Regions from separate parts of the Homo sapiens genome. Here regions 1 and 2 are each linked to region 3. The links come from fine-mapping of genetic effects on gene expression. A gene starts in region 3. Each other region holds a variant in brackets. All regions are shown on one strand. Distances are from middle to middle. Region 1 holds the start of LOC388282 (a long non-coding RNA gene). Region 2 holds the start of MIR6772 (microRNA 6772). Region 3 holds the start of KATNB1 (katanin regulatory subunit B1).

Evidence for each region.
Region 1: its variant is fine-mapped to the expression of KATNB1 in whole blood (INTERVAL, PIP 0.98).
Region 2: its variant is fine-mapped to the expression of KATNB1 in whole blood (TOPMed, PIP above 0.99).

What each region holds. Positions count from the first base shown.
Region 1 is chr16:57,808,845-57,816,999 of GRCh38, forward strand. It overlaps LOC388282 (a long non-coding RNA gene), which reads left to right and starts at 1,675. Exons shown (of 4, transcript NR_169553.1): 1 at 1,675-1,940; 2 at 4,818-5,037; 3 at 6,580-6,801; 4 at 7,376-8,108. It also overlaps a transcript of KIFC3 not described here. RefSeq lists enhancers at 1,390-1,519, 1,710-1,769, 1,830-1,889, 7,867-8,155. The variant A/G (reference allele first, on the strand shown) is at 3,459.
Region 2 is chr16:57,770,774-57,778,947 of GRCh38, forward strand. It overlaps KIFC3 (kinesin family member C3), which reads right to left. Exons shown (of 20, transcript NM_001130100.2): 4 at 1,450-1,515; 5 at 770-913; 6 at 425-664. MIR6772 (microRNA 6772) reads right to left here and starts at 1,579; the gene lies at 1,516-1,579. RefSeq lists enhancers at 3,869-4,447, 4,998-5,057, 5,026-5,604. The variant C/G (reference allele first, on the strand shown) is at 4,344.
Region 3 is chr16:57,732,491-57,740,657 of GRCh38, forward strand. KATNB1 (katanin regulatory subunit B1) reads left to right here and starts at 3,280. Exons shown (of 20, transcript NM_005886.3): 1 at 3,280-3,365; 2 at 4,488-4,793. The coding sequence starts at 4,754. LOC107984852 (a long non-coding RNA gene) reads right to left here and starts at 4,154. Exons shown (of 2, transcript XR_001752221.3): 1 at 3,946-4,154; 2 at 1,339-3,117. RefSeq lists enhancers at 1,131-2,108, 2,738-2,847, 2,827-3,121, 2,868-3,037, 4,406-4,475 and a silencer at 3,348-3,587.

The sequences.
Region 1 (8,155 bases), 76 kb after region 3:
CCATTGAGTTATGGTGAGATGTAAATTGGAGCAAGCACATAGCACCCTCAGCCCAGCATCTGGCACACAATTGGCATTTCTGCAAACACAAGCTGCAGTTATAGTGGGAGGCAAAGACCGGATAGAATTTTTTACTCTGCCTTTTCTTACTTTGAATCATGTAAGTGCTGGGTGTGGTGGCTCATGCCTGTAGTCCCAGCTTCTTGGAAGGCAGAGGTGGGAGGATCGCTTAAGCCCAGGAGTTGGTCAGCCTGGCCAACATAGCAAGACTCCCATCTCTAAATTTTTTTTAATTATTATAATAAGCATTTTCCATGTCACTTTTTCCTGCTAATGCCTACATTTTTCTGAAGTGCAGACATCATAGGATAAAGCCAAGGTCACATTCAGAATGGAGGTTCCAGTGTCTGGGGCGCACCTAGCACTCAATAAAAATGGCTGAAAAGTATTTCATTTATTCACTTATTTAGAGTTGGGGTCTCGCTCTCTCACCCAGGCTGGAGTGAGGTGGCATGATCAGAGCTCACTGCAGCCTTAAACTCCTGAGTTGAAGCAGTCCTCCCACCTCAGCCTCCCGTGTACTGGAACTACAGCTGTGAGCCACTGCACCCAGCAAAAAACTATTTTAAATGGCTGCATAATATTCCACTGAGAGCCTGTGCCCTGACTGAGCTGGCCATTCCGTAGGGTCTGATATTTGAGTAGCTCCCATTTTTGTCACTTTTATAAACAGCATTGCTGTCACCATTGCCACCCACACAGCCCGTTCATTCCCTGGTGTGGGGAGGGAAGGGAGAAGAGAGGTTGTCAATTTCATAAAAAATCTTTCTGAATAAAGAGTCTGAGCATTTTTTTTTCACTTTCTAAACATGTTGCCAGATTGCCCCTCAGAAGGCCTGTACCAAATTTACACTGTCGTTGGCAGCATTTTTTGACGAGAACTACTTTTCACGCTAATTTACAGTTTTTCTCTTGGATCTGGAATTCTCGCCCTGGCTGGTTCTCCTGGGAGGCATGAGGCATATATAAAGATATCTGAGCGATGGCTGTCACCAGAGGGGCGTATCTGGTTCTTCTGCCAGGTGCTCAGGCCGGGAGTGTTTCTGTCTGCTGGGCCAGGCCAGGTGGGGCTGAGAGCACTGACTCAGTGCTCCCAATCCCTGCCTGCTGTTAAGCCCTCAGAGATCTTCTGAGGTCAGTCCTGGAACGCCTCAGTACCCCGCGGTCCAACACTCTGGCCCATCCTAGACGGATGAGTCTCATCTGGTGCCACCACCATGATTCCTGCTCTCACACCCTGGCACTTCACTGGGGCTCCTTGCAGTAAGTCAATCAGCTACTACTGGGGGAAAAAAAAATTCCTCCTGGGTGGGGAGATGGGGACAGGGGCCATAAGGGAAGCCACGTGCTCCTGGAAAGCCATAGCCACAGCCCCTGACCACCTGCTGAACTCTTAGCACCACTGCTGCTGCTGCCTTTAAACTGTAGCTTCGCTTTGCTGAGGTTCTGTGGTGCGCAGCCTCTCCCCTAGCTCTGGTCCTCCTCCTCTGGGGGTGGCCCTTGTTTGCAAACAGCAACAGGAAGTTTTGACGCTGCTGATTAACTAGACTCCCACAGCTCTCAGTGCTGAGTCATCGCCACCAGTGTCAACCTCCCGCCCGCCCCGCTGACACCACCAGCTTCCAGGTGACCGAGAGGAAGCAGCAAGGATCCTGCGGTTCCAGTGGCTTCCATCTGCCACCTTCCAAGGGAGGGGAGGGACAAACTTCCATCCACCCCAGACAACCAGAATGTGCAGGGCCCTGAATGCCAGGACGGGAATTTAATCTAATTCAACTTCAGCAATGGGCTGAGGGACAGCTTCATGCCAGGCAAAGGGAAAAACTCTTTACACACAGGATTGCCTTTGCTTTCATTCAATCCCCGCAACAACATGTGTGGTAGGTGTTATTATTCCCATTGTACAGATGGAGAGACTGAGGCCAGTGGAAGGCCTATGGATGTGTAGGGGCTGCTGTGGGAAGATAGCTTGGAGTGCCAGAGATGGTGGGTACCGCCAGCAGGAGCTGTGTCCCCAACCCACGATGTGACCTTGGTCAGACTTCCTCCCTGTTCTGGGTCTCATGCCCCTCCCTGGGTAAAGGAGGAGGGTGGACTGGTGACCTTCTCAGGGCTACAGCCACAAGGAAGTGAGTGGGCCAGCTGGAAGGGATGGTCCTCATTCTGGGACTCTGCTTGCTGAAAGCCTGATCCAAGGGCAGGAGCATCCCACCTCAGTACCTGGGGTTGGCTTCACTGTTCACAGTTGCTTCTCCAAGGAACTCCACTGAAAGAAAGTAGTTGAGTGGTTGCCAGGGCCTGGGAGGGAGAATGATGAGTGACTATGAATGGGGCTTCTTTGGGGCGTGATAAAATGTCCTAAAGTTAGTTTATGGTGACAGTGTACAACTCTGTAAATATACTAAAAACTATTGGATTGTACACTTTAAACAGGGAATGTTATGGTATGATAATTATATCTCAGTAAAGCCGTTTAAGAGAGAAAGGAAGAAGGAAGGAGGGAGGACAGGAGAGAGAGAGACCTACACAGAGGTCAGGCCAAGCGCGATGGCTCACGCCTATAATCTCAGCAGTTTGGGAGGCAGAGCAGGGAGGATCACTTGAGGCCAGGAGTTTGAGACCAGCCTGGGCAACGTGGCAAGACCCCATTTCTACAAAAACATTTAAAAATTAGCTGGGTATGGAGTGCATACCTATGGTCCCAGCTACTTAGAAGGCCTGAGGCGTGGGGCCAAGCGGAGTGGCTCACACCTGTAATCCTAGCACTTTGGGAGGCTGAGGCAGGTGGATCATTTGAGGTCAGGAGTTCGAGACCAGCCTGGCCCACATGGTGAAACCCTGTCTCTACTAAAAATACAAAAATTAGCCGGGCATGGTGGCATAAGCTTGTAAACCCAGCTACTTGGGAGGCTGAGGCGGAGAATCACTTGAACCTGGGAGGCAGAGGTTGCAGTGAGCCGAGATTGTGATTGTGCCACTGCACTCTAGCCTAGGTGACAGCAAGACTCCGTCTCAAAAAAAAAAAAAAAAAAGAAGATTGAGGCCAGAGAATCACTTGAGCCCAGGAGTTCAAGGCTGCAGTGAGCTATGATCAGACCACTGCACTACAGCCTAGGTGACAGAGCGAGACCCCGTCTCTCTCTTTTTTTTTTTTTTTGAGACGGAGTCTCGCTGTCACCCAGGCTGGAGTGCAGTGGCGCGATCTCGGCTCACTGGAGGCTCCATCCCCTAGGGTTCACGCCATTCTCCTGCCTCAGCCTACCGAGTAGCTGGGACTACAGGCGCCCGCCACCTCGCCCGGCTAATTTTTTGTATTTTTAGTAGAGATGGGGTTTCGCCGTGTTAGCCAGGATGGTCTCGATCTCCTGACCTCATGATCTGCCCGCCTCAGCCTCCCA[A/G]AGTGCTGGGATTACAGGCATGAGCCACTGCGCCCAGCCCCCCATCTCTTAAAAAAAAAAAAAAAGAGGTCAGGCCAGAGCTGCCTTTGGGATTTGCCTTCTGGGAATAGGGCCCTCAGCACCCAGCCCCTCTGCAATCATCCCCCTCTAAGCAGCCTCACTCCAGAGTCCAGGAAAGGTGTGTGTGAAGACACCCAGTGGCAGGCGGTGGCCCCAGCTGCTGACCGAGTGTGATGGGGCCCTGGCCTTTGGTGCTTGCCTTCCTCAGAGCGGAAAGAGCCATGAATCAAAGGGCAGGTGTGTGTGGACCTGAAGGAATGTGGGGAGGGTGGCAAGAAAACGGCTGGAGGTGGAGCGGGAGAGACCCCATGAGTCAGGGTGAGATGAGGTGTTGCTCAGACAGGGAGGGCCTGGAAACAAAGCCTGGACTGGAAACACCGAAACACCGGGCTGGCCAGGGCGCTCTCAGTTGCCTGGAAACATCTTAACACTCCAGAAAGTGTGAGTAAGGAATACCTGCTGCCCCTGAGGGGCTCCCCCGAACTGGTCCAGCCATGTCTGCTTGGCAGTTGTGGGGCACAGGCAGATGCAGCTGCCCAAGAGGCAACCCCAGACTAGACCTAACGCTGAGCCAGGTGCACAGGTGCAAGGGATCCATCACGAGGGCTAAACTGGCCAATAAGAGGCAGGAGCTCATTCCACTTGTACTGTTTAGGCAACTTGCTGTTGAAAAAGGAGAACCTGGCCAGGCACAGTGGCTCATACCTTTAATCCCAACACTTTGGGAGACTGAAGCTAGTGGATCACCTGAGGTCAAGAGTTCGAGACCAGCCTGCTCAACATGGCGAAACTCCATCTCTACTGAAAATACAAAAATTAGTTGGGCGTAGTGGTGCACGCCTGTGATCCCAGCTACTTGGGAGGCTGAGGCAGGCGAATCACTTGAACTCGGGATGCGGAGGTTGCAGTGAGCCGAGATTGCGCCACTGCACTCCAGCCTGGGCAACAAAGCAAGGCCTTGTCTCAAAATAAAATAAAATAAAATACAAAAATAAATAAATAAATAAATAAATAAAAGGAAAAGGAGAAGCCAGAGGATCTTGGAGGCACAGTGTCCCTGTCTAAATCTCCAGATAACCCAGAAAGCACGCACTGCCCCCACGCTACTCCACCCCCTCCACGCCTCCCTGTCCTATGCTCTTCATGCCCACCTCCTGGGGCAAATGGCACCGGATGCCCCTGTCTTAAGTGAACAAATGGAGACTCTAACCACCTTCTGAGAATCCCAGCCCTGGGGTCAAACCTGCATGCCTGCCGAGTGCCTGCATGACAATAATTAGGATTTCCTATGCTCTGAAGCAAACCTCCCACCTGGCATCCTGCGTGTGTCCAGCACCTCCCTGCACCCGGGCACCACTCATGCAGGTGGGCTTGGCATCCTCACAGCCTCTGCAGCACGTGCCTTCAGAGGGAAGAGAACCGGGGACTCGGGAGACTCAAGGCATCTCCAGAGTCACAGCCTGAAGACAGAACCCCATGCTCTCCTGGACATAAAAGCCATGCGGTCCCTGGTAGACAGGTAGGCAGAGGTGAAGGGATCTACCCTGGCACCGGGTAGGGGCTGTGCAGTCACTCCTGCTTATTCTTCCTGTACATCCCGCTACTGTCCTCATGCTATAGATTTGACTGGGGCAGGCTGGCTGCAGAGTCCAAGTCTTGAACCACTGCACCACACTGCCTCTCAAGGGCACAGTCAATGGGGTACCTTGTCATTGTGGGTCATTCCTCAGCATGCATTCAGAGCTCTTCACCATCTGCCTGCAGCCGCCCTGCCCAGCCTTCTCTCCCACTGACCCCACAAGGCACCCTCTTTCTGGTCTTTGAATTTTTCATATGCTCCACCCACACCCCCATATCCCCACCTGCAGCCGTTTACCTGTGAGGCCCAATGGAAGCATCACCTCCTCCATGGGGACTCCTGATACCACCTAGTCAGAAGTTCCCCAGGACCACCTCCCCTTCCCTTAGCTCACCTAGCACTGGATTCACAACTGTGGGGGACTGTTAGTCTCCTACATTAGATTGGAGGTCCCTGATTCAGGCTCCCATGCTGTGTGACTTAGGGTAAGTCTCTGAGCCTCAGTTTCCTCATTAACAGGTAATATTTATTGAGCACGTACTATGTGCCAGGTACTATGTGCTAAGTACTCTACATGAACTCTCCCATTTAATCCTTACAGCACCTATGAGGCAGGCACTATAATTATCCCATGTTACAGATGAAGAAACTGTCACTGTCATTAGGACCACCATCATTATCATTACTATCATTCTTTTTTTTTTTGGAGACAAATGCTCTGTCACCCAGGCTGGAGTGCAGTGGTGCGATCTCAGCTCACTGCAACCTCTGCCTCCCAGGTTCAAGCAATTCTCGTGTCTCAGCGTCCCAAGTAGCTGGGACTACAGGCATGCACCAACACACCCAGTTGTTTGTATTTTAGTAGAGATGGTGTTTCACCATGTTGCCCAGGCTGATCTTGAACTCCTGAGCTCAAGCAATCCACGAACCTCGGCCTCCCAAAGTGCTAGGATTACAGGTGTGAGCCACCATGCCTGGCCTATTATTGCCATTCTTTTGTCCGCTATAAAACCTAGTGCACAGCAGACACTCAAACTCAGCAAAATTCAAATATGGCTGGAACTGAAACCAGCCTTAGGTAGGAAGGAATTTCAGAAACAGAGTTCTGCACATGCTCTAGGACACGCAGGCCTGGCCCTGTCCAGGCTGGGGTGATACCATCTTTGGAGGCTGATGCTGGCAGTCTGTTGTGGCTGGGAACTTGGGGTGACCTCCTTTTGCTTCTCACATCAGCCCTGTCTCTACCCACAGAAACAGACTCTGCCCAAACAAGTCCTGCAATGCACAGAGCCCGGTGGCAAACAAGCCACCTGGATAAATGGTGCCCAAGGCTGTGGGGGTCCTGGGAGGCTGACTGGAGGCAGAATTGTGCTCATTTGTAACCAGAGTAGCTCCGGGTTGCTTCTGTTAGCTCAAGGCCACAGGTACATCTCTGTGCTTAGAGATCCACACCGCACCCCACCACCGCCACGTGTTTTCTAGGATCCCCTCCAAGCATTTTCCAAAGCCCGAGGGGCTGCTTACAAGACTCTGCCCATCACCCCCAACCTGGCTGATCTGGGACCACATCAGCACCTGGCCTGACTCTTCTACCAGGATGCCCTCCAAGACCAACACTGATGCCTTAGTCACCCTCACCAGGGAGGCTGGGGGTGCCCCCACATGGCTGCTGCACCTGATGTTGGAAACGGAGGCTCCAAAAACGTAAGTGAAGTGGGTATTCCTGCTAAACACTCCACTCGGGGCCTGGGAGAAGGGGAGCAAATATCTGTCTACTCCCTCAACTCCACCCAGCCATGGCTTGTCCCACGGCCAAGTTGCCTGGGTCCTTGGGATCACCAACTTCTTCTGACTCTCTACACACACACCCCCAAACACCCCCAGACTCCTTTCCTGCCACTCCCCCACCTCAGGCACACATGCAGTGCTTGGTGCCTGGGTTAAGTCTGTGCCCTGTGGCGAGTGCTGCCCGGATACCCCGGGGTCCATTTGAGGATGAACTCGGCTGGGTCACCCCTGCTACAAACAGGCTTTTACATTCTTGAACTTCACCTGGGGTGAGGGTCTTCAGGAGTGCTGTCCCTTTTCCTCCTGAGGCCTCCTTGGTCCTGATGTTAGTGAGTGGCCATCCACGTACCCACAGGAAGGATGTGGTCAAATCCTCTTACCAGTGGCTCTGAACCATTTGACCTGCTACCTGAGCTGCTGGGGAGAGGAAAGGGGAGGGTGCTCCCACTTCTAATAGTTCATCAAGTTCTCACAACATCCCCATTCACAGGTGAGAAAACCGAGGCCCGGAAAGTGTCAACCCAAATCACGACACTCCTTGCCCCAAACCCAGAAGCCTGAGGAAGTAAGGAAGTGCGGTGGGATCTGTCTTCCCGTGTGTCTTCAGGATCCTGGGGCCTGCCCCTCCTGGCTTCCTCTTGAGGAAGGCCTCAGAAGACCCGCCTTTGGTCACAGGACAGAAGCTGGGCCAAGAGGCAAAGGTTTTGGCCGCCACAGGGGAAACTCTGGGCTCAGAGCTGCCGAAGTGACTCACGGGCCCTGCTGGGAAGCAGCTGACGTTCCTTGTCTGCGCCTTACAAAACCACACGGGCTGCGAGTGACAGCTGGCTGCTCTGAGTGGCGGAGGAATGTTGTTGCCAGACAGGTTCCTGAGGCATCTGCTGAGCTGTGCTCCAGAAACCAGCCCTGGGCAGCTGCCACACCAGGCAGCCTCCACCCCTCCCCACAACCAGGAGTCTTGGAGGGCACCCCCACCAACCTCAACAGAACTCTCCCCTCAGGGATCCGTGGAAGTCAGCCACTGCCACAGGGACAGCCACCCCTTCCAGGCAGGAGCTCATGGGAAACCAAGACCAGGGAACCCATCCCACCCCCAGTAAGACTTGAGGCCAGGGAGGTTGGAGGGGTCTCCCTGTGACCAAATCTGTGGCCATCACAACCGACCTTGAACCATAATACTAAGAATGATAACAATAATAATCACAGCTAACCCTTCACACTCACTACATGCCGGGCACCATGGCATGGAGCACTTTTTCTGAATTATCAC
Region 2 (8,174 bases), 38 kb after region 3:
GGCCAGGGGAAGGAACTCTCGGGAACATCCCACTCAGAAACCAGAAAAAAACTAGAGGAGCCTTGAGGTCCTGGCTTTCCAGAAAGCTGGGGGGGTCTCCTGGAACCTTCTCAGCTTAACAAGAGGCTACTATGAGCCTGGCTGGGGCCCCATCCTGGGTACAGACAAGAAAGGCAAAAAGACGAGGGCAGAATCCAGGGGCTGCGCTGCATCTGTGCCTGGCACCTCAGCTGTTGGATACCTACTCGGTGCCTGGCCCTGGATACAGGAAGGGGAAGGGGCAGGACCAAGCACAGAACTGGAATGATTCTTCCACCCACACACACCTACCTATTCACCAGGACAAGCCCCCCTTATGGGCTAGCCCTGCCCCAGGTGCCAGGGGCCTTGGGCTGAGGCACAGATCAGGTGGGCCAGGGCTCACCTTGACAGGTGGGGACTGGGCCCGCAGGCTGGCAATGGTCTCGTGGCTGTCACGCAGGCGCCGACTAAGCCGCTCCTCCTCCTGTGCCTTCTCAGCCAGGCAGTCCTTGAGTCGCAGCTCCACCTCAGCCAGCCGGTCGGTCTTCTGCTGCACCTCTAGGTTCAGCTCTGACAGCATGCCTTTGCTTTCCGCCATCTCCAGCTGCAGCTGGGACAGCTTGTCACGGAGCTGGGCGCTCTCCTGCAGCCATTGGGAGGCACTGGATGAGTGCAAGGGACAGGCTCACTGTGAGGAGCTGGGGTGGCCCTCCAGGACCAGCATGGGGACCACGGCCATTCTGCTCACCTGGCTGTGCTCACAACCTGGGCAGGGACCTGCTGGCTTTGTGCGCAGCTCTTGCAGCTCGGCCTCACAGCGCCGCATCTCCTGCCTCAGTCGCTCATTCTCCACCATCAGCAGGTCCCGGTGCTTCTCCAAGTCGGTGCCCCCCTGCAGAGAGCCAGGGCCGAGGGGGCGCATGTGGCGAGGGCAGATGACGGGGGAAAGAAGAGAGGCCCGCGGAGATGGCACAAGGGCAGGGAAGAGAGGAGAGGTGTGGAGAAAGGCAGAGGGAAGGAGAAAAAGAAAAAGAAAAAGGCAAGGGCAAGAGAGGAGGGAACAAGCTCAAGAGAGAAACCAAGAGAAAGACAGTGGAGGGCAGAGTTGAGAAGGGTGGTGACCCAGAGCCTGCTCTCCCTGCTGCCCCCACCCTATTCTGAGTGTGAAAGTCACAAGGAGAGACATATTTATACCAGGGTTCACACTCCCGTTTAATGTCAGCAACAGAGAAGGAACCTCCCACCCCCTGGAGCCACAAGGCCTCTGAGGGTACTAGGAGGTGGGGATAAGGCTCTCGGTGTGTTTCTGAGACAGGGTGGGATATGCGGGCTCAGGAGAGAGAGGGTCGCACCCCTGCCCCTGGCAGGGCCCATCTGCACAAGGCAGGCCAGGCCCTGCGCTACCCCAGGACAGCCTTGTGGCCTCACCAGCTCAGATCGCAGTCGGCTCACTTCCTGGGCCTGGCTAATGAGCTTCTCCTTCAGGTGTTCTACCTGTGGGCACAGAGTCAGGAGCAAGGTGAGCCTCAGTCCTCAGCTCCAGCCTACACCCAGGCCTCCTGCCCAGCACCAGGGATGACTGATGTGGCTGTGGCTTCTTCTAAGGCTGTGGCCTTAGGTTCCCCTATGTTCAAGCATCCCATCACACCTGGGACTTCAGGTGAGAGAAACCTGGGCTGGTGCTGACAGCCTCCCGCACCCTCTCCCTCCACAGGACAGAGCCAACCCCAGCTCTTCAGGAAAGCCCAGAGGGCAAGTGCAACCAAGGCCACCCCGATGCCCCCTGGGCCCACCCAACGGCAGCCCACCCTCAGGACCCCTCACTACACGAGCCCCTCCCAAAGTCCTGTACCTGCCTGTGTCTATGTAATTTTATGTTCTCTCTCTTTAAAAGGGCCCCCAGATGGTACATACTCCAGGTCCTCCGAGCCCTAGATCCACCCTGGCCCAGCCCCCAGAATTTTCCACTTGGGGTGGTCTCTGGCAAGTCAGCCTGTGGAGATGGGTCTGCCAGTGGTCAGGGCACACTCAGAACCTGTGTCCACCCCTGCTCCCAATCTGCCTTGCAGGAAAGCTGTGGCAGCCAAGGCTCTTATAGGGGGAAGGGGGTGTGCACCCCATGAGGAAGCCACGGTTACCTAGCTTATCCGGACCCCAGAAGAGGGGACACCATCATGGTGCCAGTCCCATGAGGGCAGATCCCAGGGGAGCAACCCTTCCCCGGCGCTGTCCTCCAGCCACCCATCCCCTCCCAAGGCCCTAGACCCTGGTCTCACATCAGCCCACCCCCAGAAACCTCTCTCAGGAAACAATTCACAGACACAGACTTTGGCTCCAGCTTCCGTCAGGGCATGTTTAGTACTTTTCTTGCAGAACGTCCTGTGGTGAGCAACCCCCACCTCGGGAAAGGTGCGCTAAGAGCCAGATTCCTGTGTGGTGGTTTAGGAGGTTTACACAGCTGGGTTCTCATTACTAAATGATAGGCAACAACGTCCACTGATTACAGGGGACAGCCAGGTAAGGCAGGTGAGGGGCTGTGCAGGGCTTGGCTCCCAAGAACCCTTTAAGAAGGCGGCCACCACGTACTCTCCTCGGACGACAGGAGGTGAGAACGCACACCCAGCATCGCCAAAATTCTCATCTTTCAAGAGAGGCCTAGGCCAGCCTGAGCAACACAGCAAGACCCCATCTCTACAAAAAGTTTCAAAACTCAGCCGAGTGCACCAGTGCACGCTTATAATCCCAGCTGTAATCCGGGGGGTTAGGTGGGAGATCACCTGAGCCCAGGAGTTTGAAGCTGCAGTAAGCTATGATAGCATCACTGTACCCCAGGGTGACAGAGCGAGGCTGTCTAAAAAAAATAAAATAAAAATAGAGGCTTAGAGTCCGCCCCCTTAGCACTCAGCAGCATGCATCAGCCATAGTTAAGACAGGCCGGACATTTGGATTTTGGGGGTGTGTGTAAAATCTCCCTACTTTACATGGTTGAGATGTCATCAAACAAGTCTGTGTCATCAAACAAGGTAGTGTTCGGCCTCGGAGGTCCCTGTCTCCCAGGGTGGGAGAGAACGGCTGACTCACAGCAGCTAGGCCAGCTCTGAGTGGTCAGGGAGGAAGTGGACCAAGGGATCCACCCCCACCTCTGAGGAAAAGGCCAGGGAGCTGGCACTGCCTGCTCTTGGTGGGGCAGGGGGATTCCAAGATGCAAGACCCAGGTGAAAGGCTGGGGGCCCAGCCAGGCCTCCTGGGGGACAAGCAGGTGACCCAAGGGCCAGACCCCTGGAGGTCAGCTCTGCCGCCACCTGCACAAACACATTCCTTCCTAGCAACACGCTGGGCCACGGGCCAGGCAGGGAGGCAGAGCTTGTGCCACTTCTCTGCCCGCTCAGTGCCTGATGAGAGGACGGCTCAAGTCCTTTGGCCCCTGGGTGGGAGTAGGGACAGTTTGCATGAGGCAGCCTTTCTGCTTTCGTCCTAAAATTGAGAATACCCTGAATAAGCACCCTTAGAGGAGTGGGCAGGTGAATTACAATGTGTATATATAGTACATAGACTATTCTGTCATCATTACATTCATGTTTATCAGGAGTTTTAAATGTCATGGGGAAAGGCTCATCAACATATTAAGTCCAAGAAACATCTGAAAAACCATTAAGTGTACAGCACTAAAAAGTGGGGGTCTCTGGGCTGTGGAATTATAGTTGACAAAATCTTTATGCTTTTCAGTAATTTTTTTTTTTCTTTTTGAGACAGGGTCTCACTCTGTCACCCAGGCTGGAGTGCAGTGCCTCGATCTAGGCTCACTGCAGCCTAGACCTCCTGGACTCAAGCCATCCTCCCATCTCAGCCTCCCGAGTAGCTGGGACTACAAGCACATACCATCACGCCCGGCTAATTTTTTTTTTTTTTTTAATGTATAGAAGGGTCTTGCCATTTTGCCCAAGCTGGCCTTGAATTCCTGGCCTCAAGCAGTCTTCCCGCCTCAGCCTCCCAAAGTGCTGGGATTACCGTTGTGAGCCCCTGCGCCCGGCCAGTAATTTTTCAGTCTCAAAGAATACGTAATTCCTACTCTCCCTACCCTGACATAAGTGAACTGACTTCCTCTTCAAAAGGTTGAAGTCTCCTTCCACGCCCCCTCCCTCCCCAGAAAGGCTGCTGCCTCAGCATGGGGCTGGGCGCACTAACCTTGATCATCTCCACTGCCGCCCCTGCCAGGCACTCAGACCCTGATGCAGGGAGAGTGGGGTTTGCCAGTGTTTGCTGGGGGTGGGAGGCGGGATACCCACCAGCCACCTGCCTGCGGCCCAGGGTTCTGTTCTGTC[C/G]TTGCATCACAATGGGAACCTGGGGGCTCCTGGGCTCTGTCCAGAATCTCAGAGGGGCACCCAAAAGGAAGTGGCCGCAACCGCAACCAGGGCAGGCTGGGGAGCATGGGGGATGGTGAGGGAGTTGAGGAAGGGGCTCTAAAGGCCCCTTTGTTCAGAGGTGTCAGACACTAGGTCATCTCTGGCTTCTTGAGGGCAGCAAAGCAGGGGGAATGTGACTGAGACGCAGCAGACTGGCACCACGAGCACTCTGGCCAAGGCACCAGTGGCCTGCTCCGTGGCAGGTGGTTGGCCAGCTCTACTGGGGGCTAGGTCTCGGGCTTGTAGGGAAGATGTCTGCTTTCTCCTGCACTTGAAGGCAGGCAATCTCTCAGAGTTAGGGAAAACAGGCAAGAAGTCAGAGAGAAACGGAGGCACCTGGGGAAAGCGGATGGAAGATGGCCTGGGAGCAGTGAGAGCCAAGAGCAGGCAGGGCCTTCCTCAGGGAAGACTGAGGGCCCTTCACACACTCACCGCAGCTTCCAGCCAGCAAGGGCCGTCCATGTCTCTAAGCCCAACAGGGGAGGGTCCCGAGTGCCACCCTGGGCCCGATACATACTTGTGGCCACAAAGGGGCAGCAGGCACATGCCTGAGCCCAAGACACAGGACGGAGGAGAAAGCAGACTCCCCACTAGGCGGCTGAAACGGTCCCAGGACAGCATGGACGTCAATCCAGGGCTGAGGACGGACCAGGCTGGGGCTGTGCGACACTCCTCCCGGGCCCAGGCTCCTCATCAGCCAGAGCAACTGAATCACGGGCCTGCTGCAGGGGGCGTCACCCTGCCTGCTCAAGGGGAAGAGGGAGCTGGGCCTGTCTGCCGGCTTGACACCACCTGCATTTACACTTCACAGGCAGAAGCGGCTCGACCAAGGGTGGGGCCAGCCAGCCCAGGTCTTTGTGTTTTCTCAGCTGTCTGCTTCCAAGGCGGCCTCTTACCATCACAGAAAGAAAACCTGCTGGTTACCTCCTTACCTCCCACCAAGCCCAGTCAACGATCATCAGCTGTCTGCTGAGGAAAAGCGGGCTCTCCCAGGCTGAAGCTGCTGAGCTGGGAAGGCCAGAGGGTCTGGGATCCAGACAACCTCAAGGAAACTCAGCCCAGAGGCCAGCGGGGCGGCCCTGGGAGCACACCCTGTGGAGCCCACAGAAGGCCTGATCCTGGCTGTATGACCACCGGCCAGGCCTATCTGTCCCCTGTCCACGCCACCCTGCCTCTGTTGCCAAGTCTTCACCTCTGGGTCCTTCCGCCACTGATGGGCAGTAATAGCAGCTGACAATTCGAATTCTAAAGCCAGGCTGCCCAGGTTCTAATCCAGACATCCCCTTACCTGCTGGGTAACCTTGGACAAGTCTCTTAAGTTCTCTATGTCTCTTAGTTTCCTTATTTGTATAATGAGGCTACCTCATGGAAGCTGTCTCGAGGATTAAACGAGATGATATATGCGAAGGCAGGGATTTTTGTCTGTTGTGTTCAGCACTGTACTCCCAGTGCCTGGAACAGTGCCTGGTACACAGTAGGTGTTCAGTAAGTACCTGTAGGAAGAATGCTGAATGCATGAGGGGCCAGCCAGAGCAGAACTTGTGGATGAGGTTGGTAAGCAGAGACAGAAAGGGTGGTGGGGCTGGAGCGTGCTAAAGGATGGTCACCTCCACCAAAGGCAGGAGCTGCCACTAGACCTCAAGCGGTGGGTGCCATGTGGGAATGTCAGCTCAGAGGTGCCACATCTTCCAATATTTTATGACAAAAAGGAAGTCTAGAGTTTTATGTGAATTTAATTAAGATTTGAATGTTGGAATTAATTTGATTTTAAAAGCAGGGCAATTAGAACTAATAAATTCAGCAAAGTTGAAGGATACAAAATGAACACACAAAAATCGGTTACATTTCTACAACTAACAATAAACAATCCAAAAAGGAAATTAAGAAAATAATTCCATTTACAATAGCATCAAAAAGAATAAAGTACCGAGGAATAAACTTAACAAAGGTTAAATATTGTATGCTAAAAACTACAAGATATTGGTGAAAGAAATTAAAGATGACACCAATAAATGGAAAGACATTCCATGTTCATGGATTAGAAGATTTAATATTGATAAGGTGTCAGTACTACCCAAAGTGATCTACAGATTCAATGCAATGCCTAACAAAATCCCAATGACATTTTCTAAAGAAATAGAAAAATCCATATCAAGGGACACCACATAGCTAAAACAGTCTTGAAAGACTGAAGGTCTCACACTTCCTGATTTCAAAACTCACTAAAAAGCTACAGCAATTGGCCAGGCGCGGTGGCTCATGCCTGTAATCCCAGCACTTTGGGAGGCCGAGGCAGGCGGATCACCTGAGGTCAGAAGTTTGAGGCCACCCTGGCCAACGTGACGAAACCCCATCTCTACTAAAAATACAAAAATTAGCCGGGCCTCATGGCAGGCGCCTGTAATCCCAGCTACTCAGGAGGCTGAGGCAGGAGAATCGCTTGAACCCGAGAGGCAGAGGTCGCAGTGAGCTGAGATTGCACCACTGCACTCCCGCCTGGGCAGCAGAGCAAGACTCCATCTCAAATAAAAAAAAAATTAAAAAAAAAAAAGCTACAGCAATCAAAGCAGTGTGGTACTGACATTAAAACAGACATAAAGAGCAATGGAATGGAATACAGAGTCCAGAAATAAACCCTCGCATATATGGTTAAATGATTTTTGACAAGGTTGCCAAGATCATTTAATGTGGGAAAGGATAATCTTTTCAACAAATGGTGCTGAGAAAACTGGATATCCACAGGCAAAAGAATGGAGTTGGATCCTTACCTTATACCATATACAAAAATTAACTCAAAATAGATCAAAGAGGGCCAGGCGTGGTGTAATCCCAGCACTTTGGGAGGCCAAGGTAGGAGGAGTGCTCGAGCCCAGGAGTTCAAGACCAGCCTGGGCAACATAGGGAAACCCTGTCTCTACAACAAGTAACCAAAATTAGCTGGGCACAGTGGCACACGCCTGTGGTCCCAGCTACTAGGGAGGCTGAGGCGGGCAGATCACTTGAGCCCAGGAGGCCAAGGCCACAGTGAGCCATGACTATACCACCACACTGCAGCCTGGGCAATACAGCAAGATCTTGTGTCAAAACAAAAAACAAAAAACCCCAAAGACCTAAATGTGAGAGCTAAAACTATAAAACTCTCAGAAGAAAATAGAGGAGAAAATGTCATGACATTAAATTTGGCAATGACTTCTTGGATATAACACCAAAAGCACAGGCAATAAAAGAAAAAATAGGTAAGTCAGACTTTATCAAAATTAAAAACTTTTGTATAACAAAGGACACTATCAACAGAGTGAAAAGGCAACACGTGGAAAATACTCGCAAATCATTTATCTGATAAGGAGTTATTATCCTGGATATATAAAGAACTATAACTCAACAACAACAAACCCAATTTAAGAATGAGCAAAGAACTTGAATAGCAATTTCTCCAGAGAAGACATACAAATAACTAAAACACACATGAAAAGATATTTAATATCACTGGCATTAGGGAAATGCAAATCAAAACCACTATGAGATACCACTGCACACCTATTAGGATGGCTGTTACAAAAATGAAAATAAGCAGGAGCGAGTCCCAGCTACTCCAGGAGGCTGAGGCACAAAGATTGCCTGAGGCCAGGAGTTCAGAGGCTACAGTGAGCTATGACCATGAACGGCCACTGCACTCTAGTCTGGGCAACATAGCGAGACCTCATCTCTACAAATAAATAAAGAAAATGAAAAACAAGTGCTGATAAGGAT
Region 3 (8,167 bases):
TAGAACTTTCATAGCAGCATTATTGATAATAGCACCATACTTGGAAGTTACCCAAATGCCCATCAAGAGCAGAATGGATACATAAATTGTGGTCTTCAGATATTTTGGGTTGTCTTTAACTGCTTAGGGAGAACTGCTTAGGGAGAATGCTACTGGCATCTAGTGCATACAGGCCAGGGATGCTGCTAAACATTCTACAATGCCCAGAACAGCCCCCCACAGCAAATAATTATCTAGGTCTAAATGCCAATAATGTTGAGGTTATAGAGTATATTAGTCTGTTTTCACACTGCTGATTAAGACATACTCAAGACTGGGTAATTTGTAAAGAAAAAGAGGTTTAATGGACTCACAGTTCCACACGGCTGGGGAGGCCCCACAATCATGGCAGAAGGCCAAAGGCACATCTTACATGGTGGCAGACAAGAAAGAATGAGAACCAAGCAAAAAGGAAAATCCCTTATAAAATCATCAGCTCTCGTGAGACTAATTCACTACCATGAGAACAGTATGTGGGAAACCCCTCCCATGATTCAGTTATCTCCCACTGGGTCCCTCCCACAATATGTGGGAATTATGGGAGCTACAATTCACAAGATGAGATTTGGGTGGGGATACAGCCAAACCATATCATAGAGCAATGAAAATGAATGAACTGCAACACAACTATATGGAATGATATGGTCAAACTGCCTAAGTATAATGTCAAAAGATTCAAGACACAAAAGTACATACTCTATTATTCCATTTATGGAAAGAACAAAAATAAGGAAAATTAATTGGTGATATTAGAAGTCAGGACAACCGTCACTCTTGGAGTGTGAGGGTTAGTGAATGGATGTGAGCATGGAGCCCTGGGAGGGGAGGTTCTGGTTTCTAGTCACGTTCTGCTTTTTGACCTGGGTGTGTTCGGTTTGTAAAAATTCATCAACCTTGTGCACTTACAATGTGTCCTCTGGAGTGTTTTTGACTGCTTGTTGTCATGAATCTAATCAAGCCTTTAGCCCTAACTTAAGAAATTCAAGGGAAGAAATGCATTTAAGAAGAACGTCCATCTAACAAGAACTTCAGGAAATTCAGGTAAATGATACTAAAAGGAAACATTCCTAACGTGGGACAATCTAGGTAAATGGCCTGATCTCTTCAAAAGATCGATGTCATAAAAATAAAAGTTTGGGGACAGAAATGGAAAGAACTTAAGAGTCAAGTGTGGTGAATACTGATTGGTTCTTAGTTAGAAAAAAAAAGTCCTAAAAGGTTTTTGGGATGACTGGGGACATACGAATATGGACTGGTTGTTACAGAATTAAATTTTCTTAGCAGTGGTGATAACAATGGTTATTGTAGAATAAGGGCTTTATTTTTATTTTTTGAAATGGATCTCACTCTGTCGCCCAGGCTGGAGTACAGTGGCCCCATCCCAGCTCACCGCAACCTCTGCTTCCCAGTTTCAAGTGATTCTCCTGCCTCAGCCTCCCCAGTAGCTAGGATTATAGGCACGTGCGCCACCACGCCCGGCTAATTTTTGTATTTTTTTGTAGAGACGGGGTTTCACCATGTTGGCCAGGTTGGTCTCGGACTCCTGACCTCAGGTGATCCGCCCGCCTTGGCCTCCCAAAGTGCTGGGATTGCAGGCGTGAGCCACCGCGCCTGGCCAAGGGCCTTATTTTTAAGAGATACATGCTCAGTATTTGGTGTTGGGGTGAAATGTCATATCTACAATTTTCAAATGGTTCCGAAAAGACACACAGACGAAGCAAATATGGCAAACTGTTAACAAGTACTGGAATCTACGTGGTATCATTATATTGTCTTTTAAAGTTTTCTCTGTTTAGTTTTCTTTTTATAATACAAAATTAAGGGGAACTGCAGGCTAGACAGTTTTGATCCGATGTTATTCTGCTAATCTTTTAAAGGTGTCTTGCGGTGACTCACGCCTGTAATCCCAGCACTTCGGGAGGCTGGGGCGGGTGGATCACCTAAGGTCAGGAGTTCAAGACCAGCCTGGCCAAAATGGAGAAACCCCGTCTCTACTAAAAATATAAAAACTAGCCTTAGCCCGTCGTGGTGGCGGGCGCCTGTGGTTCCAGCTACCCAGGAGGCTGAAGCAGGAGAATCTGAAGCAGAAGGCTGAAGCAGAAGGCAGAGTGGGGACTCCCCCACGCTTTGGCTTTCAGAACAAGGGTTCGAATTCTGGGGCTATTACTTTCTGACCGTGTGGTTTTCTGCAAGCATCTTAACCCGGGCCTCAGTTTCCTCATCTGTAAATGGGAACAGGAATTCCTACCTCTTATGGTTGTACTGGGCGTTATGTGAGCCCAAGGAGCCCTGACCTGCGGTGAGAGGCTGGAGGCCGAAGGGCAAGGTTCGAGGGGCTCTGGGTGCCTGGGACAACCTCTGGGCAACAGGGAGAGGCGGCTGCGGGGCCAAGTCCCTCCTAAGCGGCCACGCGAGAGGCCCTGAGTCGAGAAGGGTTACGGCGCTTCCCAGAGCCCACCCCGCCCAACGTGTCACAAATAAAGCTGGCCTTTCTCCGATTCCCTGATTGCAGCCATTCAGGGAGCAGCCCCTTGCCCACGCATCCATTAGTCGAGGCGGTGGCTGCGTGTGCAGTGCTACAGGGTTCAGCGCCTGCCTCGGCTCCGGAATCAGGCTGTTTCCTTCTAGACCTCCCATGGGGGATTCAAGCCGGCGTCCGGGTCAAAGAACAGGGACAAAGTCCTCCTGCCACGGGGGACCATCTGCAGGCAAAGTGAAGAATGAGGAGCTTCGGCAAAATGCCGACTAAGGCCTCCTTAGGTTTTGCCCCACTCCAAGATGGAAGGCCTGAGGCTTCACACTGCCCCCGAAGTTCCTTTCCCATTGGCTATCTGGGAATTGAGTTTTCCAATAATGCGGACGCTGATTGGTCAATCCAGGACGGTTGCTCAAGCCATTGGCGCAGCCGCCATTGGAGGGCGGCTCTCAAAAGTTTTCAGACACAAATTAGGTTCGAGGGAGGAAACGGAGAGGAAAGGGAAAACTTGAGACGGAGGCGGGACTAAGGAAACGGCAGCTTGCATTGGTTTATTAGAGGCCAAGGGGCGGCTCTTGAACGTTCCTTCCTCTTGATTAGTCCTATTTAGGAAAAGAGGGCGGGTACTGAGGAAAAGCGGCAGAAGCGCCTGCTTCCATTGGTCAGTCCTGGCAGGAGGCGGAGCACCCGCGGCAGCTGATTGGTGCGGGAGGCAAGGTGGGCGGGGCTCTGAGCCGGAGGTTTTGTTGTGAGGGTCGGTTGTCAAGCAGCGGCCAATCAAGGCAGGGGATGGAGGCAAGTGGGGGTCGCGCCTGGAGCGGAGCCTCGGCCTCCGGAGCCGCAGCTGCAGGTGGAGTGGGCAAGGGGACGAGGTGGCGAGGGGACGGTGGGCCCTGGGCTGGGCCGAGCCAGGCGGGGCTGGCTGGGCTTGCGGGCAGAGAGCTCTGAGCGTGGGGAGGCTAGAGCCCGTACTCCGCAAGCAGAGGGTTGGGAGGATCAGCCGTGGCCGAGGGACCTGCCCCCGCCCCCGGACGAGAGGGGTCGGGGTGGAGGCCGGAGGGGGCAAAACCAGGGAGGCCGGAAGCAGAGCTGGGGGTCTGCAGAAGGACAGGTAATGAATAGGGAGAAGAGAAGTAGGAGAATGAATGAATGGGAGACCCCGCGAGCATATGGGAAAGGGCAGTAACGGGAGTCTGGCGAGGCAGGGGCCACGTGAGGGATATCGGGAGACAGGATGTGCATAAGTGGGAGACTCAGGGGGCAGGGAGAAAAGGGGGTGTGAACGGAGGACTAGAGAGGCAGACCCGGGGACCCAGGAGAAAGGGGACGGAGGGGAGCGGGCTCATGGGAAAGAGGTGAAGTGGCTGTGGGAAGGAGGTGGGAGGCTCCATGAGGAGGCCTTTTAGAGTTGAAGAGTCATAGCCACTTACGCCCAGACTGGAGGCCTAGTTCCTAGCTCTGTCCTTGGGAATCGCAGGGAGCAGGAGCGGTTCCCTTGCCAGGAGCTGGGGAATTGGACCATCAGGGTCGTCTTCGAGATTCTTTCCAAGGAGGACTTCAGTGGCCGTCTCTGGGATGCCTTTCCTAGGCCCCTAAGCTTAGCTTCTGACTCCGCTCTCCCACATCCCACACGTCAGACAAAAACAACGACTCGCAGGAAATCTATGTGAATTGCAGACACGTGGTCTTCTCCGCCCCACTGCGGCTGCTGCACTTTAGGCAGCCAGCATCCCGGAACAGAGCTGCAGCTCATTATCCTGGCCTCTGGGAGGAGTTTCTTTTTCCTTACGTTCCAAATCACCCTACCTGAGGTGCCCCCTCTGCAGATTCCCAAACCTAATTTGCAGTGCAGCTTCTGACTCTGGTGGCTTTGGTGGGTGTCAGTCTTTATCAAGTGGTCTTGGTGATCCAGGGAGCAACAGCTCTTACCAAGCATTTTCTAACATGACGTCACCTCTTGTTTGTATTGCAGCCCTGTATTGAGCTGAGATGGCTCGAGCCTAACATTCCATGATCCAGGATCGTGACAGATGTGCACAGGCTGCTGCTGTTGCTGCTGTGGGTAATTTGGAACCACGAGGCACCCCAGGGCCAGAAGACGAGGCATTCTGTCTGCCTGGATGTGTGGGAACTCTCTGCCAACTTGATTGGTGGATCTGGGGGGGGATCCACCCCCACCCCACGAGGAAAGCACAGTTTATTTTGTGGGTGGGGCTTCAGGTGCCAGCCAGCTGAAGGATGGCCACCCCTGTGGTCACCAAGACAGCCTGGAAGTTGCGTGAGTGGTTTTCATTTTTCTTTATCACCCCATTTATTCTGTTAGCGGCTTGTTGCTGGGAGGCCTGAACCCACAGCTTTGTTTCCTGTTCTTGGCACAGGAGGAGACTCCTAGACTTGGGAGTAAGATAGACCATTATGTAAATCATGACTGTGGCACTTCTTAGCTGGGTGACACTGGGCAGGTGACTTAACCTCTCTGAGGCTCAGTTTTCTTATATGTACAATGAGATGACGCCTGCATTCTATGGTTGCTGTGAAATTCAAGTGACAGGATGAACCCATCCTAAAGCACTTAGCACAGCATTTCCAGTTAGGCTGACAGTGGGGTGAGAAATCCTGAAAGATGTTCACAGCATTCTCAGACATCTCACAAGTCAAACTTCCCCAGTCAGATAAAAGCATCTTGGGCCTGGGATGGGGGAAGGAGTGGGAGCGAGGAGGGGCGGGCAGAGGGATGCAGACAGGGCTCGGATTGTAACTGATGGGCACTGTCCACTCCCACCATTGCCCTATACAAGTGGATCTGGACTCTTTCATCTGAAGACTTCATACTTTAAGAATTATTGAGGACCCCAGAGTGCTTTTGTTTGTTGGAGTTATATATCTGTCAGTATTTACCACGTTAGAAGTTAATACTGAGACATTTTCAAACAAGAGTATATAATCAAATAGGCCTCTAGTGATGTTCTGGGAAACTCCACCATATGCTTGAGAGCAAATGAGAGTGCAAAAGGCAGATGCCATCTTAGTGTTATTGTGAAAATCCTTTTGTCTTCTCAGACCCCCCGAAAGGATCTTGAGGATCCCAAGCATCCCCAGATCATATTTTGAGAATTCCCCTACACATTGGCACCTTGGTGGGCCCTGCCCCACCTATTGTAACTGGTTGGCATAGCTTTTGTGTGCTCCACCTGGTCACTGTCTGCTGCCAGCTGTCCCTGGGCTGGTTTTCAGGAGCTGGGACAAGACTCCACACTTTTTTTTTTTTTTGAGACAGAGTCTCACTGTCACCCAGGCTGGAGTACAGTGGTGCAATCTCAGCTCACTGCAACCTCTGCTTCCCGGGTTCATGCGATTCTCGTGCCTCAGCCTCCCGAGTAGCTGGGATCACAGGCACCCGCCACCACACCCGGCTAATTTTTGTATTTTTAGTAGAGACGGGGTTTCACCATGTTGGCCAGACTCGTCTCGAACCCCTGACCTCAGGTGATCCACGTGCCTCAGCCTCCCAAAGTGCTGGGATGACAGGCATGAGCCACCATGCCTGGCCAAGACTCCACACTTTTTAACCATGAATTTAACCATAAGACTCTGGGCAAAGCTCTTTGCAGGGCCTCTGTTTCCTTGTTTGTAAAGTGAGAGGTTTGGGCCATTTTCATGTTGTTCCCCAAAACTCTAGGGCTCTGGGAGAACCCTGTTATGGTTCCCCAAGGAAGGCACACTTTGGTCAGAGTGGCTTTGTAATTATTGGGATTACGTATTCATCCCTTCGACAGCTGGCCTTTCCCCAGAGCTAGGCACTGGGGAGCCACTGGGGGACAAAGTAGTCAAGGTCTCTGTACAGCGGGAGCTCAGAGCCTGGGGAGAGCAACAGGCAGGAACTGGATAACCGTATCCCTCTGTGTCTCCTCTAGTTGCAAGCTGGTGCCTGTGCTTTGAATCAGTTAGCTGGGGGGTAGGGGTAGGGGTGGGGTGGGAATGCTGCAGGCTGCATGAACAGCAAGTGCAAAGGCCCTGAGGCAGGAGGCTCAGTGTATTGGAAGGACTCAAGGGAGGCCATGGGCAGTGGCACAGCAGCAGGAGGAATGTGGGGCCGCACGGACCTACTGAGTTCTCAGGACCCCAGCCCTCCTGAGGCTGCCGTGCTTTATCATAAAGGCAAGGCCAAGCCATCAGTGTGTGCGAGCAGGAGGTAATGAGATCAGGCGTATTGGGCATCTGCTGCTGCTGCTGATTTCATGTGCACGGTGGTGTCCGTGGGAATCAACTCTGAAGAGCCCAGGGCCACGTGACCTCTGGCTCCTTGTGGCTCCAGGGTCTGGTGAGGATCAGAGGTGCGTGGCCCACATGAGGTCGTTGAAACCTAGTACTTTGTATCTTGCATTTGGGATGCTGATCCTCAGCCCCTCTGGCCACGCCGCACCATGTTCCCCAGCTTTGGCTGGATGTGGGGCCCAGGTTGTACTCCCAGAGCTTGGCCTGCCAGTAGACACTGAGGATTTTTATTTTTTATTTTTGGTATGAAAATCAAGTATTCGGCCTGGGCTGTTGGTTGCTGTCCAACAAGCCAGGATGAAGGAGGAGCTCTTGGGGTGGTGCCCCGTGCCTCCTTTGCAGGTGCCTGTGCTGTGTCCCTGCCCCTCTGCCCTCCCTCTGTGGGCTCCAGTCAGTCCCTGGTCAGGCTGCTTAGAGGGGAGTGATGTGGGCTCCTCCAGAAGGGCCCAACTTCTAAATCTTTCTCACTCCAAAGTCTGCGGTTTTGCCAGCTCAGTGTCCCGCCCCCACCACCATCTGATTATACTGGGGCATATTTCGTGCAAGGCCTAGAACAGGCACCCAGGAAATACTGATATTATGAATGAATGCCCCTGACTCCAGGGGCAGCAGTCCTGAGGCCCAGTGAGGTGGGGCCCAGCCAGACACTTTCCCTGGGAGGAGTGAGGGCCAGGGGACAGACAGAGCCCTCCAGGTAGGCCAGGGGGAGCGAGCAGTGCCTCCACGGAGAGGACACCAGGCTCGGGCACGGAATGCCAGGGAGAAGGTGCTTTGCCCTCTTTCTGGGTCAGGTGGAAACCTTGAACAGACACGTCTGTGGCTGGAATTCCTCAGGTTTCTGTCCCGACAGTGTCCAGAGGACAGAAGGCTCTCATCGAGACGGGACTAAAGTGGGGCCCAGCTCCCTGGGATCCCCATGGCGAACTCCCAGCGCCCTGGCCCAGGTTTGGGCCCACAGGGAACCCTCGCCCTTGCTGGCGCTGCTGCCTGTGCTGGCTCTGCCCCGACCGGCCCAGGAGGCAGGGTGTCATCAGTGAGATTCAGCCTGCGACTTGTCCCCTGGGTATTCCTGGTGGCCCCTTGGAGCCCAGGTTTCTGGCAAGCAGCTTCCCTGGGCCCAGTTTCCCAACCTCCTTGTGGTCTGAAGCCCGCAGCAGAGACACCCAGGCAGGGTGGAGTCGGAGCTGGGGTGCAGGAGGGGCCTCTGTGGAGCGCCGTGGCTCCAACACCCTTTTCCTTGGCGTCACCCACGCTGGCCTTCCGGGTGCCTCGGGGCGTCAGCACCTTGGGGTTTTCCCCTGGCCTGTGTGGGGAGAACTGTCTTTTTTCTCCCTTCTTTCCAGGAGGAGCTCATGCAGGGATGGGTTCTGAGGCCCG